Linked DNA regions of Homo sapiens: region 2 is linked to region 1. Evidence: fine-mapped expression QTL. Tissue or cell type: minor salivary gland. Region 1 holds a variant in brackets; the other region holds the start of a gene. All regions are shown on one strand. Distances are from middle to middle.

Evidence for each region. PIP is the estimated chance that this variant, and not a neighbour inherited with it, causes the effect.
Region 2: it holds the start of CLU, and the variant in region 1 is fine-mapped to the expression of CLU in minor salivary gland (GTEx, PIP 0.98).

The regions. Positions count from the first base shown.
Region 1 is chr8:27,882,017-27,890,285 of GRCh38, reverse strand. All of the region lies in intron 7 of SCARA5 (scavenger receptor class A member 5), which reads left to right. MIR4287 (microRNA 4287) reads left to right here and starts at 4,170; the gene lies at 4,170-4,247. The variant A/G (reference allele first, on the strand shown) is at 4,268.
Region 2 is chr8:27,610,735-27,618,882 of GRCh38, reverse strand. It overlaps CLU (clusterin), which reads left to right and starts at 4,183. Exons shown (of 9, transcript NM_001831.4): 1 at 4,183-4,228. It overlaps MIR6843 (microRNA 6843), which reads left to right and starts at 8,132; the gene lies at 8,132-8,148. RefSeq lists enhancers at 1,548-2,304, 2,595-3,095, 4,052-4,551, 7,734-8,148 and silencers at 3,940-4,029, 5,585-5,770.

The DNA of each region.
Region 1 (8,269 bases):
AGCCAGCATCAGAAAGAGAAGTGGTCTCAAAAGAGAAGGATCTGGCATCCCAGTAATGGCTGGTGACTTCTCTGTCAACTTCAGTTTCCTCATTTCTAACTGAGGGTTTTGGAGCCCCTGAGTTCTCTGCCAGCTTTGACATTCTGTGGTCTTTCTTATCTATTTTAAACTCTTAGTTCATTTGAGTGAGTCCAGGGCAAAGACAATACTTATTTATCCTTGCATCCTTAGTGCCTAGCACAATCCTGGAATGTGGTAGTAATTCCATACCTGCAAATTGATGGATAAATAAATATGCAATTGAAAAAATAAACACAGACATTGATAAAATATACATAAAGAATTAATACAGATAATGCATTTTTAGTGCTGCATATCTGTGCACGGGAAGTAGAATCACCCCGGACTTCAACAAATATTATCACTTTCCTCAAAAGCCAAGGCTGGTTTATCCTTCCCCTGCGTGCAATCGTTGACATGTTCATTTTCAAATGCAAACTCAGCAATGGCTGTGCTTCACAAAGGCAACCCTGTCTTCTTGGTTCTCCCATAAGACTCAGGAGAAACCAAGCTGTTTCTATGAATTTTAGTTAGAAGCATTGCAGTTCCAGGGTTAAAGTAATTGTTTTTCATGTAACTGCTCCATCAAAAGGCATCTTGCATCAAAGTCGTGATGCAAATTGGTGGACCATGCTCAGGGATCTTCTGAAGAAAGGATTCTGGGAAAGAAAGGAGGGTGTAGATGGAGAACTGGCCCGAGGGCTAAGTCTCAAGTTCAGGCCCCAGCTCTTCTGCTAGCTACGGGATGACTTGGGTAAGGCACGTCACCTCTCTGGGCCTCTGCTCCCACACGTGTCATGCAAAGAGTGTGGACTGTGTCATCTTCAAGTCTCTACCAGCTGGCAAATGCTATGCTTCACCATCATTTGTGATTATTGGAAAAGCCCAAAGATGATGTCATAATTACCGAAAAATCACTCCAAGCACTAAGTAATGGGACATCTGTTGCCGACAACTAAGCTAATGGAAGTTGTTCCTAGTGATATCCTGAGAAAATGCTAAGATTCCTTGTCCAGACCCATGCCTTGATCTTCTCCATGACCTGGCCTCATCTGTGCCTCAGCTGTACCCTCTTTACTGGGGAACAAGCTCAAGCTTTGAGAGATTTGGGGCCTGTAGAAGGAGGGTGGCTGAGGACCATGGGGTTGGTCCCGGTGGGGCCTGGGTGAAGGGCAGGCTCAGTACAACAGGTTGAGGAATGGGGAGGCAGGTGCTGTGGTCTGGGGCTGCAGTGAGGCAGAGAGCTCCAAGCCGAGGCTGGAATTGACACTCCAGAAAAGTTGTGGGGTGAAACAATGAGCCCCTTGATCTGGGAGACAGCAAGGAGGCTACCCAGCCAGGAGCCAGTCTCCTGCCCTGTGTTCCCTCAAACCACTTTCCTCTCCTAGGGTTACACAGTGAAACCAGGCAGGGATGCTCTGGTCTGGGCTTTGAGGTGACAGCACTTTTCTCTTTCTGCTTCTCTGTATCAAAGGGAAGAACCTTGGTCACAGGGTGTTGATGGGGCTTGTAACCAAACCGAAGTGGGATCTTCTTGCCTGGCATGGTAAAGCCAAACATCCATACTGAAGTTGTGCAGTGGGAGGAAGCATGGTGTTTATTTGCAAGGCACCAAGCAAAGAAAATCTGGTAGCTCACACTTAAGACTCAACCTCCTGGATGGCTTACAAGCAAGGCTGTTTAAAGGCAATGGTAAATTTCAGGAGAGCAGAAGTTACAGGCAAATTTCTAAATCAAGACATGGATGTTATACATTGGTTTGGCCTAAAAAGGTGGGAAATCTGGAAGCAAGGGCTTACAGGTCATACATGGCTTCAAAGACTTTCTGATTTGCAATTGGTTAAGGAAGGGAAACTTTGTCTAAAAACTTGGGTTCAGCAGAAAGGAATATTAAGGTCTGGCCTGTGGATGTGACTTCTTCCAGGTCCTCAGAGCTAGCTAGGTGCCTGGAATTTTCCTTTATTCTGTGGCACTGGAGAATAAAGAATAAACACAATCATTAGCTGGGCATGGCAGCATGCACCCTGTAGTCCCAGCTACTTGGGAGGCTGAGGCGGGAGAGAATGGCTTGAGCCTGGGGGACAGAGGTTGTAGTGAGCCGAGATCATGCCACTGCACTCCAGCCTGGGTGACAGAGCCAGACCTTGTCTCAAAAAAAAAAGTCCGTCAATCAGAGTTCAGGCCTCAGTTTCCCCTCATTTGAGGTCTATATGCCAGCAAATCCATTTGGTTCTGGGTTTCTGAAAAACATCCAGCTGGGTTTCTGAAAAACACCTCAGGGACATATGTTAAGATGTTCTCTTTAGTTTCTATAGAGAGTCATCAGAGGTTGACTCTAACTTCTTTGACTATTGCTTTAAGCTACTATTTCTTTCTTTCTTACCAAGTTGCTCATTTACTTCTTGGGGCTAGCCTAGAATTTCCCTTGAAGATACTCAAGATTTTCTTTTATTTCCATGTTTGGGGGCCTAGCAGCCCCTAAGTCCCTGCTCCATCTCGGGCTTGTGGTCCCCAGTTCTGGGGAAGCAGGGAAAAGATGAACAGAGATGAGCCCTGTGGATATCTGGGTGTCTCTGCTATGGGGGGCAGGGGTGGGCATTACAAGAAAAAGCTCTGCCAAAGCCTTGTGGGATGGGGATTGGAATAAGCTGTCAAGAACAGCCTCTCCTTGTTTTTAGTAAGGAATAGCTCTTGGTGTTTCCCTTCAGCTTGGGTTTTCCAGCCAAGTGATGCTATGTGCCGGTGCCATTCCTGCACAGAGCTGGTAGGGACCAGCCTTGTAGCCAGTACCATCCTCTTAACTTGCAAACCATGAAGGCATGGACAGGTAGACCCCAGTCTGCAGGTTAGGGATCCAGAACAAGAGGAAAAGTGTGATAGTCTCTGCACCTAACGCCCTCACCTGAGGGGTGCAAATCAGATACCCACACGGGAGTGGTATGGGGCAGGGTTTTCTTCCGGGTTGCTGATCCTCATTTGCTCAGGAAGGGTTTTCCAGGGCTCAATGTGGTATGATGCCAAGGAGGAGGTGAAGGTGCCTCGCAGTCATTGAAGGGCAGTTACTAGGGGACGTGGCTGCAACCTCGAAAGCCTGGGGTCCCATTGCTCATCACCAGCTCTCTTGCCCTTTGCCCTCTACCTGGAGCATCTGCTCTTGCTTTGGAGCCTAGGAGTCTCTGAATTTCACACAATCAAGAATCCCTGTCTCCCATTTTCCTCCACTGCCACGTGCAGAGAGAGGCATCTCCCTGACTCCAGTAGCCCCGTTCCCCCTGCAGGGACCCTCCTGGGGGGCATCTGAGGAAAAAACTCCCTGGACTGACAGGAAGAGTCTTGGGGAAGTCACGGACCAGGCTGAGGCTGCCTCTCAGTCACCACTTCTGATTAAGTCGGGGCTGACACATTGTGGGGCAAGAGCATTTCCCAGTGGTGGTTGGTGGCTTGGTGGGAAAGCTTTGACCTGGGGCAGAAACTGCCGGGAAAAAGCAGCATTTAAACCCTCTGCCCACAGAAACCCAAACCTCTTAAATGATGACGTCCTTCTCAGGCTAGAGGGTAGTCACTGTTGGAGGGCGTTGGTGATTCCCCAAGTGTGTTGCTGGAGGTGGCCTCATTGCTCAGCTCTGGGAAAGGCTCCTGCCTGCCTGCCTCCCCTATACCTCTTCAGGGGTAAAGGAGGCCAGAGACACAAGTTTCTGAATTTAGACTCTGAGTTCCTGAATCAGGGCAGCCTACATCATAAGCAAGTCAGACCTCAGCCTGTGGTTTCCCAGAGAGGTGGTAACAGAGCTGAGATTTTGTTGGGTGGGGAGAAAAGGATGCAAAATCCACAGCTTAGGGCCATGCTCTGTGAAGTGGAGCTACAACAAAATGTGGCCTCTGATTTGGGTGAGTCCAGGGGAGAAGGTGTGGCTTTCAGATTTGTGTTGACCCTGCTGGGGCAGGCAGCATCTGTTGACCCTGTGGGCAGGCGGCCCTCCACCATGGGGGGAAGCCCTGAGTCTAGGGGATCTGGGGACAGGTGGTGAGGAACAGGCCTCCATGCTTAATGAACCGACACTGGGGTCTGGGTGGAGTGGTGCCTTGTGCAGCCTCGCCCAGGTGCTCTCTAGTTCTTTTTCTCCCTTGAGGGCACTTTTCAGTTCCTGAGATCAATGTGGTCCCTACTGGGGAGACCATAGGAGCCCTGCAGGCCATGACTTTGCTC[A/G]ATGCATGGTAAGCATGGGCCATGGGCCAGAGACATCCTTGAAATTGATGCTTTGCATCCCGTGATTATGGTTATCATATGTTTTCAATTTTTTGAAGGTGTCTTGTTTCCAAATATTCTTCTATCACTTCTATATACATTGAAACCTCTTGGGAATTTCAGTATTTCAGCATCCAAATGACATTTTCCAGACTTCCCATTGCACCCACCATGATCATCTGACAGCCATGTCCCCATTCTCTCACTTGAGATGTACGGTCATTGTAACAGCCTGAGCTCTGGGTCCAGAATCCAGAGTCATCTCAAGTAGAGAAGGCAGCAAGTATGTGATTAGAAGTGTTGTGATGTAATAAAGAGGATGCTGGAGATTTGGGGCCCTGATGTTGGATTCTCCATTCAGGTTGCCACCAAAGCCCTGGACTCTGGGGAGCCATGCCCTCCAGCCAGCACCTGCCCATCTGGGTCCATATTAATGAGTCCCTCCATTCATGCATGCCTTCCCTTTGCACAGGCTGGGTATCTCAGTGCACCGGGCCCTGTACCAGGTCACGTGATCCTCAGAAGGCTCACAGTGTCCTAAGAGAGTAAATAGCAATAGCAATTATGACACAAAGCTATAAGCATGTACCTAGAAGGGGCCCTGTTGGGTGTGGGGACCAGGGAAGGAGAAGAGGCATCTAAGCTGAGATCTAAAAGACAAGGAAAGCTTAGGCCAGAGTACAGAAAGGAGTTTTCTGAGGTGGGGGAGTCCACGTCCTTCCTCAGCTCATTCAGGTCTCCACTCAAGGCCTTCCTTCTCTACTCGTCCAAAATGGCACCTGCTCTCACTCCCCACCCTCTTCCTTGTTCACTTGTCCAAGACAGTACCTGCCCTCTCATTCCCTCCCTTGTCCACCTGTCCAAGATGGTGCCTGCCCTCTCTCTCATTTCCTTCCTTGTCCACTCGGCCAAGATGGTGTCTGCCCTCTCTCTCATTTCCTTCCTTGTCCACCCGGCCAAGATGGTGCCTGCCCTGTCTCTCATTTCCTCCCTCCTCCACTTGTCCAAGATGGCGCCTGCCCTCACTCTCCACTCCTTTGTTCACTTGCCCACAATAGTGCCTGCCTCACTCTGTACTCCCTGTGCTTCTGTTCCCATCTATGCTCTTATCACCGCTTGGCTATAATTATGGTTTTGTTTTTGTTGACTAGCTGTATTGCTAGACTCTCCCTAGAATGTCAGCTCCATGAGGGCAGGGACTCTGTTTGTGGGTGTATCCACAGCTGTCTGATAGACTCTCAGTCACTTACTTGGCTAAACGAGTAGGTGCACAAAGTGAGTTCAGGCTGGCCAGAACAGAGAGGCTAAGTCAGGGAGTCTCCGACCGTCTACCTTGGCTGCCTAGTCACACCCAGTCACACTCTTCCTGTTGTTTTGACCCCACACCTGACTTCTGCCTGGCCTGCTCTGTGACTCACAGCACCCTCCTGCCACTTCTTGCCCTACTTGCTGACCCCACACTGTGGCTTCTGTTGCAGGCCTCCTGGTGCAGCCAGAGGTGAGGCAGGTCTGTGAGAAACCAGGGCTGACAGCCTGGCCTCAGCCAACCCAGGGCCAAGGCCCCGCGCAGCGGCCGGGTCCCTCTTGGTGCTGCTGGCTGCAGGTTAGCCTGTCCTTACTGCTCCCGGGGAGTTTCTTGGTGTCAGACCCAGCCTCTGAATTCCAGCTCTTCTCCATGTTTTTCTTCTCCAGGATCTCTCTGTTGTCTTGCATAGCCTCAGCCTGTTTGGGGACAGCCTGAATGAGTTTGTATTTGCAGTCTGTGTGGGGAGAACGGTCACCTGGCCAGGGATGAAGGATCCGCAGCAAATACATCCAATATCGAGAGGAGGCATCCCTGGTGCTCTCGCTGTAGTCTTTAGCATCATTCCTGGGGTTGGGGTCGCTTCCTGGTGGCTTCCTCGGTTCCTCTGCAGAATTTTCTGGGGTTTTCTTGGCCCAGGCATGTGGCCAGTTCTGAGTTCTCTCCTTTCTCATGGGGCACAGATGTCAATTCTGCCATCTCCTTCGGGACCTATGAAAGTCTTTGCCAAGTCACAGTCATTAAAAGGAGGCTCCTTCCAGCCCACTTGGCCAAATACAAGATAAAGGAAAAACAAAAGTCCAGGAGTGCCGCGCTTATTAGTAGCAGGGCTTGAGTAGGTTTGTTATTTTCTCTGGCAGTTCACATGGGCATTTTCCTGCATTGTGTCACCCACTTGTCACTGGGTTCCAGTACAATGTCCACCCCTACCCCACATGACACCAGTGGATTCTGGCTTTAAAAAGAGATGACCCTGATTTCTTCTCTGGCCTTGGATTACTGAGGGTTGGAGCTAGAAGGAACCTTGCTGATTGACCCTCTAATCTAAATGCCAGTCCACAGCCCACAAACCAATTGTTCTGAATTATTTGGGACACTTGGAAAAATAGAGATCCCTCACTCTTGCCACCAAGATTCTCTTTCAGTAGGTCTGGATTGGCCGTGGAATCTGGTGTTCCTAATGATTTTGATAAGACCCACTGACCACTCCAGTATCTTATCAAGTGAGGATGCTCAGGTCCCAGCAGGGGAAATAGCCCCCAAGAGTAGTGGGGCGGGCAGGATGGTGAAAAGGATGTGGGAAGACACATAAGGAAACGCAAGCTGTGATCCCAGCTCTGGCACTGACCATGTGTTTCACCCTGAGACTATGACTTCCCAGCCAAACCCTGGCTTTGTGATGATCCAAAGGCTTCTTTCAGTTGCTCTGGTGTTCTTTGGGTCCCCAACATTTCCCCTTGGAGAACCAATGCATTGTAATGCTCAGGAATGGCTCTCTACTACATTCTGCAAACATTGATTTTTCATTTCCTCCAGCCAGGCTGTGTGCCAAGCACTGAGTTTAGAGATCAATGTGACAGGGGCTCAGCCCTCAGAGAAGGGGGAACAGACCCACATTGCTGATGTTTCCATGGGCCAGGATTGTGCCCCAGAGCCCTTTTAGCTTTGTTGCATTTTGTTTGCATGACAGTCCTGCAGTGTAGATGTTGTTCCCATGTCGCAGTTGGGGAAATGCCTTTAGAGAGGTTGTGAGGCTACCTTAAGGTCATTCAGGTCGAAAGGGCCTATTATGTGCCAGGTGCTATTCTGAGTTCTTCACATCTATTACCATGTTTCATTGATTCTGTGACACACATTTATATGTCTGTGAAATCAGGAAGCACCTGGCACTTGATATAATTTGCCACCTACCCAGCAGAGATTTTTCCTTCTTAGTGGCATATAAAACAGGCGCCCATTACAACAGGTGGCATCTCAGATTTGATGAACCAATGTGTCTCACAGTTGCAGATAGTAAGTGGCAGAACCAGAATTCCCAACTGGCTCTCTCTGGCTTAAAGCACTTTCACACTCACAGCCTAGTGGGAAAGTGAACATGAATGACCAAATCAGGGCTGAGACACTTCCCGGGACACAGCCATGCTACCTGCCCACAAAGTCTTAACCATCCTTGGCTTCCTATTTCTCCTACACCCTCCTCCCTAGCAGGCAAGGCTGCTGGTCACCGGGTCTCAAACAGTGGAGAGAAATCTGGTAATCACACTCCTTGATATTTACCCAAATGAGCTGAAACTGACATCCACATGAAAACCTGCACATGGATATTTATAGCAGCTTTATTCATCCAGGCAAAAACTTTGAAGCAACCAAGATGTTTTTCAGTAGGTGAATGGATGAATAAACTATGGTGCACATAGAAAATGGAATACCATTCAGTCCTAAAAAGAAAGGAGCTATGAAGCCATGAAAAGACATGAAGCAACCTTACATGAAGGTTCACTTACTTATTACTAAGTGAAAGATGCCAATCTGAAAAGGCTGCATACTGTATGATTCCAACTATGACATCCTGGAAAAGGCAAAACTACGGAGAAAGTGAAAAGATCAGTGGTTGCCAGGGGTAGGGAGGAGGGAGAGATGAATAGTCTCACTGAATAAGT
Region 2 (8,148 bases), 270 kb after region 1:
TATTTTTAGTAGAGACAGGGTTTCACCATGTTGGCCAGGATGGTCTCTTGACCTAGTGATCTCCCCACCTCGGCCTCCTGAAGTGTTGGGATTATAGGCGTGAGCCACTGCACCCAGCCTTTCACTAAGTTAAAAAAAATTAAAACTGACACGAGAATGGTACATATTTGTGGGGTACAATGTGATGTTTTGATACGTGCACACATTGTGTAAGGATCAAATTAGGGTAATTACCAAATCCATCTCAAACATTTCTTTGTGGTGAGAACATTGTAAGTTCTCTCTTCTACCTATGTTGAAATATACATTATTCAAAAAATAAGAGGTGCTGGTGAGGTTGTGGATAAAAGGGAAGGCTTATATACACTGTTGGTGGGAGTGTAAATTAGTTCAACCATTTTGGAAAGCAGTGTGATGATTCCTGAAAGAGCTAAAAACAGAATTAACATTTCACCCAGCAATCTCATTACTGGGTATATATAGGAATATAAATTGCTCTGCCATAACGACACATGCACTCATATGTTCATTGCAGCACTATTCTCAATAGCAGAGGCATGGAATCAACCTAAATGCCCATCAGTGGCAGACTGGATAAGGAAAATATGGTATATATACACCATGGAATACTACGGTATACACCATGGAATACTATGCAGCCATAAAAAAGAACGAGATCATGTCTTTTGCAGGAACATGGATGGAGCTGGAGGCTATTATTCTAAGTGAAGTAACACAGGAACAGAAAACAAAATTCTGCATGTTTTCACTTATAAGTGGGAGCTGAATGATGAGAACACATGGACACATAGAGGGGAGCAATAGATACTGGGACCTAAAAAAAAAGTTAAACTCTACTATGCGATAGAATACCAGAACTTATCCCTCCCATCTGACTTTAACTGTGTACTGGTTGACCAATCTCTCACCATCCTCCCTCCCTGCTCCCCTTGGAGAGTGATTCTCTTATTTTTTTCATTTTTATTTTTGAGAGACAGGGTCTCACTTTATTGCCCAGGCTGGAGTGCAGTGGTGCGATCGTAGCTCACTGCAGCCTTGACCTCCTGGGCTCAAGCGATACTCCATCTCAGCTTCCTGAGTAGCTGAGATTGCGGGCATGCACTACCATGCTTGGCTAATTTTTTAATTTTTGTAGAAACTGGGTCTTGCTATGTTGCCCTGGCTGGTCTTGAACTCCTGGACTCAAGTGATCCTCCCACCTCAGCCTCCCAAAGTGCTAGGATTACAGGTGTGAGTCACCACGCCCATCTGAGAGTGATTCTTAATCACAGGCCACAGGATACTGCTCTTGCCCATTCCTAGTTTGTTCCAGCTGTATCAGACTGCTGGCTGAGCTGTCCTGCTTGTGGTGCTGAGCCAGACAAAGGCTGGTTGGGGATGTGTAATAAGGACACTGCGTAGCGAAGCAGCCCCAGAGACATTCAGGCAGCCAGAGATGGTGCACAAAGCATAGATAAACAGATAAATGCAAGGGTCTTTACTCATCCCTCCCTGGCCCTCCCCATGGCTCTGACTCTCCAAGAAAATAAATCAAGCTAATGCCCCAAACCCAGCTGTGTAAGTCCATAATGGGAGACAGAGGATCAAACAGCAGCACCTGCCAAGAAGATGATGCATTCTCTATGAATCAGCCCAGTGACTCAGCATCTGATAAAGCTTATTTGGAGTGTTTAGGGCAAGGGAAGGGGTGGTCCTGTTCTGCTTTGTGTGCTCAGGCCCTCCGGCATTGGCTGGTCCAAGGCTCCCCACTGGCATTGGCTAGTCCAGGGCTGGGCCAAGGGTTTCAAGAGAGATGAGGTCCAGAATGTCAAAGGGCTGGGGAAAAGTCTGCAAACCACGGCAAGGCAAGGAGCTGCAAGCCTGGAGGTCACTGGGAAAAGCAGACTACGTTGCCTTCAAATATCAGAAGGGGCACTATGGGAGAGATAGGCTGGATTTTCTCTGTGTGGCTCCAGAGGGCAGAACTGGGCTCCGGATTGGCCCATACACGAGCCAGACTGTGACTCAACCAAAGAAGGCCCTAACTTTATCAACAGCTTTACTAGACAAATGGTTGCATGGCAGGTAGTGAGCTCCCTGTTATTGGTGGCATTCAAACATGGGCAGGATGACCACCGGGTGCAGATGCTGGGGATGGGGTAGGAATCAAGCAGTGTGTGAGTCCTGAACCAATCAATGTCTATGATCTGCTTAGAATATGAAACATCTGGTGATGCATTTATGGCGCTTTCAAAATTTACACTTTTCTTTCCTCAAAGTTTGACCTTCTGAACCTTGTTTGCTTAGTAGTGGGAATAATCAAGTAATTATTCCCAAGGGATCACAGTCATGACTGTGAATCTGTGAATCATGCTATTTTCTCCCAAGTCCTTTCTTCCTCTCTTCCCTTCCCCTAATTCAGCTGGCTAAGGCGGATCTCACTGACTGACCTCCAAAGTCTAATTTTTAAAAATATAACTAGATTTATGCCTTCTGTTCCGGATGCTGAGGGAGCTACAGAACAGAAAAGTTACAAGGAGCGAGCTCAAAAACAATTCTTCTAACCTCAGGTATTGATAAGGAGCAGGCACTGATAAGGAGCAGGCACTGTCCACAGAAAATGTAGCTGTTACTGATAATTAGACATTTTTTTTTTAAGAAAAATAAAGTGTAGCCTCTTCTGGGACATTTTTTTCTTCTTCTGGGTTAATGGCCTTCTAATACTTGGCTTGGCTCTAGGTTAGGTTGCAGGGAGCCGTGGAGATGATCCATTCCCGATTCCTCATCGTCCAGATGGAAGAAACTGAGGCCCAAGGGCAAAGTGATTAGTCCGAGGTCACCCAGTGTCTAGGGGCACACCTAGGACTGTAATCAGACTTTCATGGACCTGGTCTGGGTTCTCCCACTTAGTCATGGGCCTTGAAGATTCCCCGAGGCTGCCTCCTGAAAAGGACTGGGGTCCTAGTGGCCCCTGGACGTTGGGCAAGCAAGGGACTGGGCCTCCATGTTGTGCCTCCATAGTCCTGATCCTGAACTGGAAAACTCAGCCCCTGACCACGCAGCTCTCCTTTAAGCCCCTTTGTTTCACATGGTTTTCAAAGTCTGCCACCCACAGTGGGGCTGCCTGTACCCGCCCTGTCCACCCATTGCCCCAGCTGTCAGCCCCTTGACTTCTCTCCTGGGGCTTAAACATCCCTGGCTCCAAAATGGGCAGCTCACTTTCTTCCCCAAGAAGTAGCTGCACCTCCAGGGTTCCTAGATTTGCCCCTCCTTGCCAGGGGGAGGGGTGGCTGCGACAGGAGATTCTCCCTGCTCTCAGCAGAAGGAACTCCAGCAGTTGGAGACCAGCAAACCCCTCTGGACACAGATCTGATTTCCTAACTGGGAAGGCTCAGGGCAAAATAAAAATTCAGGTCCACTGGTTCAAAAACTATGAAGAATTTCAAGACCGTCACAGTAGCCCATTAAACCAAACGTGGATCTGCAAGGGTCCCACAGCCATGAAGCCCACCCTGCTTGGTTGGGTTCCAAAAAGATGGGGACAGTGATTGCTTAAGCTCTGTGGATCAAGGACCCCGGAGAGGCCTTCTGGCTCTCCACATATCTGCTCTGATCACTCCTAAACACAATTCTGTTTCCTCCAGGCCTGGCGGGTCAGTCCAGGGACCCCCATCAGTGTGATGTTTCCAGGAGTAGGCGTTTCAATACTTCCTGTGCTCTCTTCTCCAGCACAAGGCCCCTCTCCATCCCACCCTCATTATGTCTGACTCTTTACTATTTAAATGGGTCAAGAGAAGTGGCGCTTGTGTAATGTGAAGGTTAAGGTCAGTAGGGCCAGGGAACTGTGAGATTGTGTCTTGGACTGGGACAGACAGCCGGGCTAACCGCGTGAGAGGGGCTCCCAGATGGGCACGCGAGTTCAGGCTCTTCCCTACTGGAAGCGCCGAGCGGCCGCACCTCAGGGTCTCTCCTGGAGCCAGCACAGCTATTCGTGGTGATGATGCGCCCCCCGGCGCCCCCAGCCCGGTGCTGCACCGGCCCCCACCTCCCGGCTTCCAGAAAGCTCCCCTTGCTTTCCGCGGCATTCTTTGGGCGTGAGTCATGCAGGTTTGCAGCCAGCCCCAAAGGGGGTGTGTGCGCGAGCAGAGCGCTATAAATACGGCGCCTCCCAGTGCCCACAACGCGGCGTCGCCAGGAGGAGCGCGCGGGCACAGGGTGCCGCTGACCGGTGAGATGTCCCCGTCTTCCCTACCCTTGAGCAGAGCCACACCAGGACGGATGGGCGGGCAGGGGATGGCAGCCAGGCAGAGAGGGATGACACAGCTCGCAGTCACAACCCCTGCGCTTTCGACGGAGCCCAGGAAGCCAGGGAGGGGAGGTGGCCGGAGCCCCATCACCAGGCAGCTGAGCCAGGGGCCCCGGCGCAACCGCCGCCTGAGAGCACGAGCTCCAACCACAATTCTGTGGTGGGGGGGTAAATAGAACAGATATAATGATCATCCTTTCGCAAAGATGGGGAAACTGAGACCTGGAGACCTGCCGCGTTGCGGGAGACCCAGGCTAGCAGGTGACAGAGCTGGCCTGCACCGAGCTCCTTCCTGCAGCATATCCTCTGCGAAGATGCGGATCTCTCAGTTGTGGCTTTCGGCTTGCATGCATGAGTCATCTAGTTTTCTTCTAAATTCTCTAGCTCTCTGGACACTGTTGCCTGTAAGTATGAGGCTGCGGATTTCAGTATATGCTGCAACCACCGAAATCCGACTTTTTCTGCCTCCTAATGCATCTGAGGTGCATCAGAGAAAAGTCACACAAGATCCACCAGGCCTCAGACCTCTGATTCCACAGTCTCATTTTACAGATGATAATCTGAGGCCTGGAGAGGTTTAGGACTGGTGCCAACACTAAACAGCAAATAAGTATCAGAATTGGGATTCGAGCCAAAGCCTCTTGACCTTCCAGAATTTCTGGACCTAGTTAAAAAAAATATGATTTTTATTATTATTTTTTAAACGGAGAGGTTAGGAATTTAAAGGAAAGTACAGATACTATATAAAAAAAGATGCCCATGAAAATGTTAAGTTATAATAATAGTGGAGCATTGGGCACAACTGAAATGGCCAATCTTGTGAGAATGGTAAAATAAACTTAGGTCCGTGAGTAAGTGGAGTATTACATAGCCATAAAAGTATGCCCTTAAAGAATATTTGAAGATGGTGAATGTGAAGAATCTTGTATAAACTGCATGGAAGACAGAAGGAAATATACCACAGTGCTAACCTTTGCCTCTGGGTGATATGAATTACCGGTGATTATTTTTCTTATTTTCCTTTTGGTTTAGTTTTCTCCATTTGAAGAAGCAGATAGGAGCCGGGGCTTTGGGATTGAAACCCTCACCATCTGTGTGCCCTCTTCACTGTCTTCCCATCCTCCCCACGGCTCCCTGTTCACAGTCATTGATTTTCTTTCTTTCTTTTCTCTCTTTTTTTTTTTTTTTCCTGAGACCAAGTCTCACTCTGTTGCCCAGGCTGGAGTAGAGTAGCGCCATCTCGGCTCACTGCAACCTCCGCCATCCGGGTTCAAGCAGTTCTCATGCCTCAGCCTCTGAGTAGCTGGGACTACAGGCGCATGCTGCTACATCCGGCTAATTTTTGTATTTTTAGTAGAGACATGGTTTCACCACCTTGGCCAGGCTGGTCTCGAACTCCTGATCTCAAGTAATCCGCCTGTCTTGGCCTCCCAAAGTGCTGGGGTGACAGGTGTGAATCAATGCGCCCTGCCAGGTCATTGATTTTCTTAAGCCTCCAGCCCTGCCCTGCTTGGAAACGTTTTGGGAAGCTGCTCAGTTCAAAGTTCCCAGGAGGGTGTGCCTGGAGGGGAGTTGCTCCCAAAGTCTGCCTGCTCCCCCCGCCCCCCCTGCCCCCCACCCCCCGCCATCTTCTCCTCCTCCTCTTCCCCTGAGCAGCCCCTTTGTCCACAGAACCGGCCTTTTCTGGTAGAAGGAGCAAGGCCAAGTGGTTTAAGCCTTCTTAGGGAGAATGAGGCTGTGTGGTAGTGCTGGGGACTCGAGGGCCTTGGCCTTGGCATGGCTCTTCCACCCAGGGCAGCTGGCAGCCAGGCTCCCAGGAGGCAGAGGAGATGAGGGGGGAGGTGAGTCCGAGCAAAGGAAAGGAGGTCGGCTGTGCAGTCACGGTTCTAGAACATTCCTTGGATCAGCAGCATCCATATCACCTGCAGACTGGCTGGAAAAGCAGTCTCAGAACCAACATTATAACCAGCCCTGCAGTGATTCATAAGTACTTTAAAAAGTGGTCAATCATTTCAGCAAAGCAGAGCCACACAGTCCGGGGGACCACAGGTGGCCTCTGTGTGCTTGTCTCGGTTTTCCTGCCCCTCTCCAGACATGTTGATTAGACACTGCCAATGCCCAGCCTCAGACCTCAGTCTAATTTGGAAGTAGTCAGAATTTACTATGATTACATAAGACCCTCGTGTTTACAGAACACATTCCCCTCTCTGAGGTCTGGATTAGATCCATTTTACAGATGAAGAAACTGAGGCTCAGATATTTAAGTGACTTGGAATCAAGGAAAGAATACTGGACTAGGGGTCGGGAGGGCTGGGCTCTCATCCCAGGGTTACCATGAGCATGCTGTGGACTCTAGGGAGTCCCATGCCCTCTCTGGGCTTCAGCCTCACCGCTAGGGTAGAGAGGTTGGGTGAGAGAACGACCTCCTTCCCAGGTCTGAGCTGGATGGTTCACCAGGGACCCCAGGCTCCCTGGAGCAGACTCTGTGCCCGCTGCTGAGTCTGGAATTCCTTTCCTGTATCTTGCCTTTGGCTGCCCCATTCTTCATGGCCCAGCACCCTGTCTTCTGGTCAGAACCTAGTTCTGAATGGGTTTTTCCAGAAGTTGTTGCTTTCAGGGGCCCCTGGCAGAGAGGTGTTTCTGGCTGGCTTTGTCTCTCTGGCATGACAAAGGCTCTGTTCCTGCTGGAGGCATTTCAGGGCTCAGTGGGCAGCTGGGGCAGAGCCCGTGAGACCACAGCCTTCCTGGTGAGCCCGGTCTCCGCCCCCTACCCCATCTCTGGGGAAGGCGCTGACCCCATCTCTTCTCCCACGCTGCTCCCTGGCTCTTTGCGCCTGATTACTTCTCATGAGAGGCACTCCTTGTTAATGTGCTACTGAGTGTCCAGATGGGCCTGCTGGGCTGAGCGGGCTTTGGATGTGAACCATTTCAGGAAGGGGAACCCCATCGTCCTGTTGGTTCTGTGATGGCAAATGGGTGAGCTCAGATAAGCAGTTCTTGGGAGGGGCATGGTGGGGGTGGAGTGCAGGGGGAGGGGTTTCTGTTTTATGCAACAGCCTCAGCTTCTGGGAAAGGGTCCATTGTGTAAGACCGGGGCTATGGCCTGTGCCCCGTGGCTCAGGGCAGCCAGCCCAGTGGTGGCAGGAACACTGGCAGGGCAGCCTGCTGTCGGCTTAGAGGGGATGGGCAGTGTGGAGGGCCTGGCAGAGCAAGAGGACTCATCCTTCCAAAGGGACTTTCTCTGGGAAGCCTGCTCCTCGGGCCACTGCGAACCCTCTCTACTCTCCGAAGGGAATTGTCCTTCCTGGCTTCCACTACTTCCACCCCTGAATGCACAGGCAGCCCGGCCCAAGTCTCCCACTAGGGATGCAGATGGATTCGGTGTGAAGGGCTGGCTGCTGTTGCCTCCGGCTCTTGAAAGTCAAGTTCAGGTGGTGCTGAGACTCCCTGGGGGCTGCAGCGCTGTGGTGAATGGGGAGCGTCTGCTGGGGTGAAGGTTTAGGTGCACATTGCAGAGGACGTGGCTGGTCTCTGGGATGCAGTCCCTCTGTGGAGGTGGCATGGGGAGGGACGGATGCATGACCTAAGGGGGGTATTTTCAGTGTCTGACATGATCGATACCACTCTGGACAAGGAGGCCAGGATGCAGAAAGCCTGTGTGCCTCGCTGATTGTCGGGGAGGATGTGGCTTGGACAAGAGCCTGGTTCCTCCGATGCCAGGGTTCTTGTTTCTTCCACTCAACATTGCTGTCCTGCAGTCCCTCCCTCCCTGCACCTCCTGCCTTCGCTTTCATTCGAGGTGTCCATGGCAAGTCTGGTCATTTCCCCCCATTTCCTCAGGA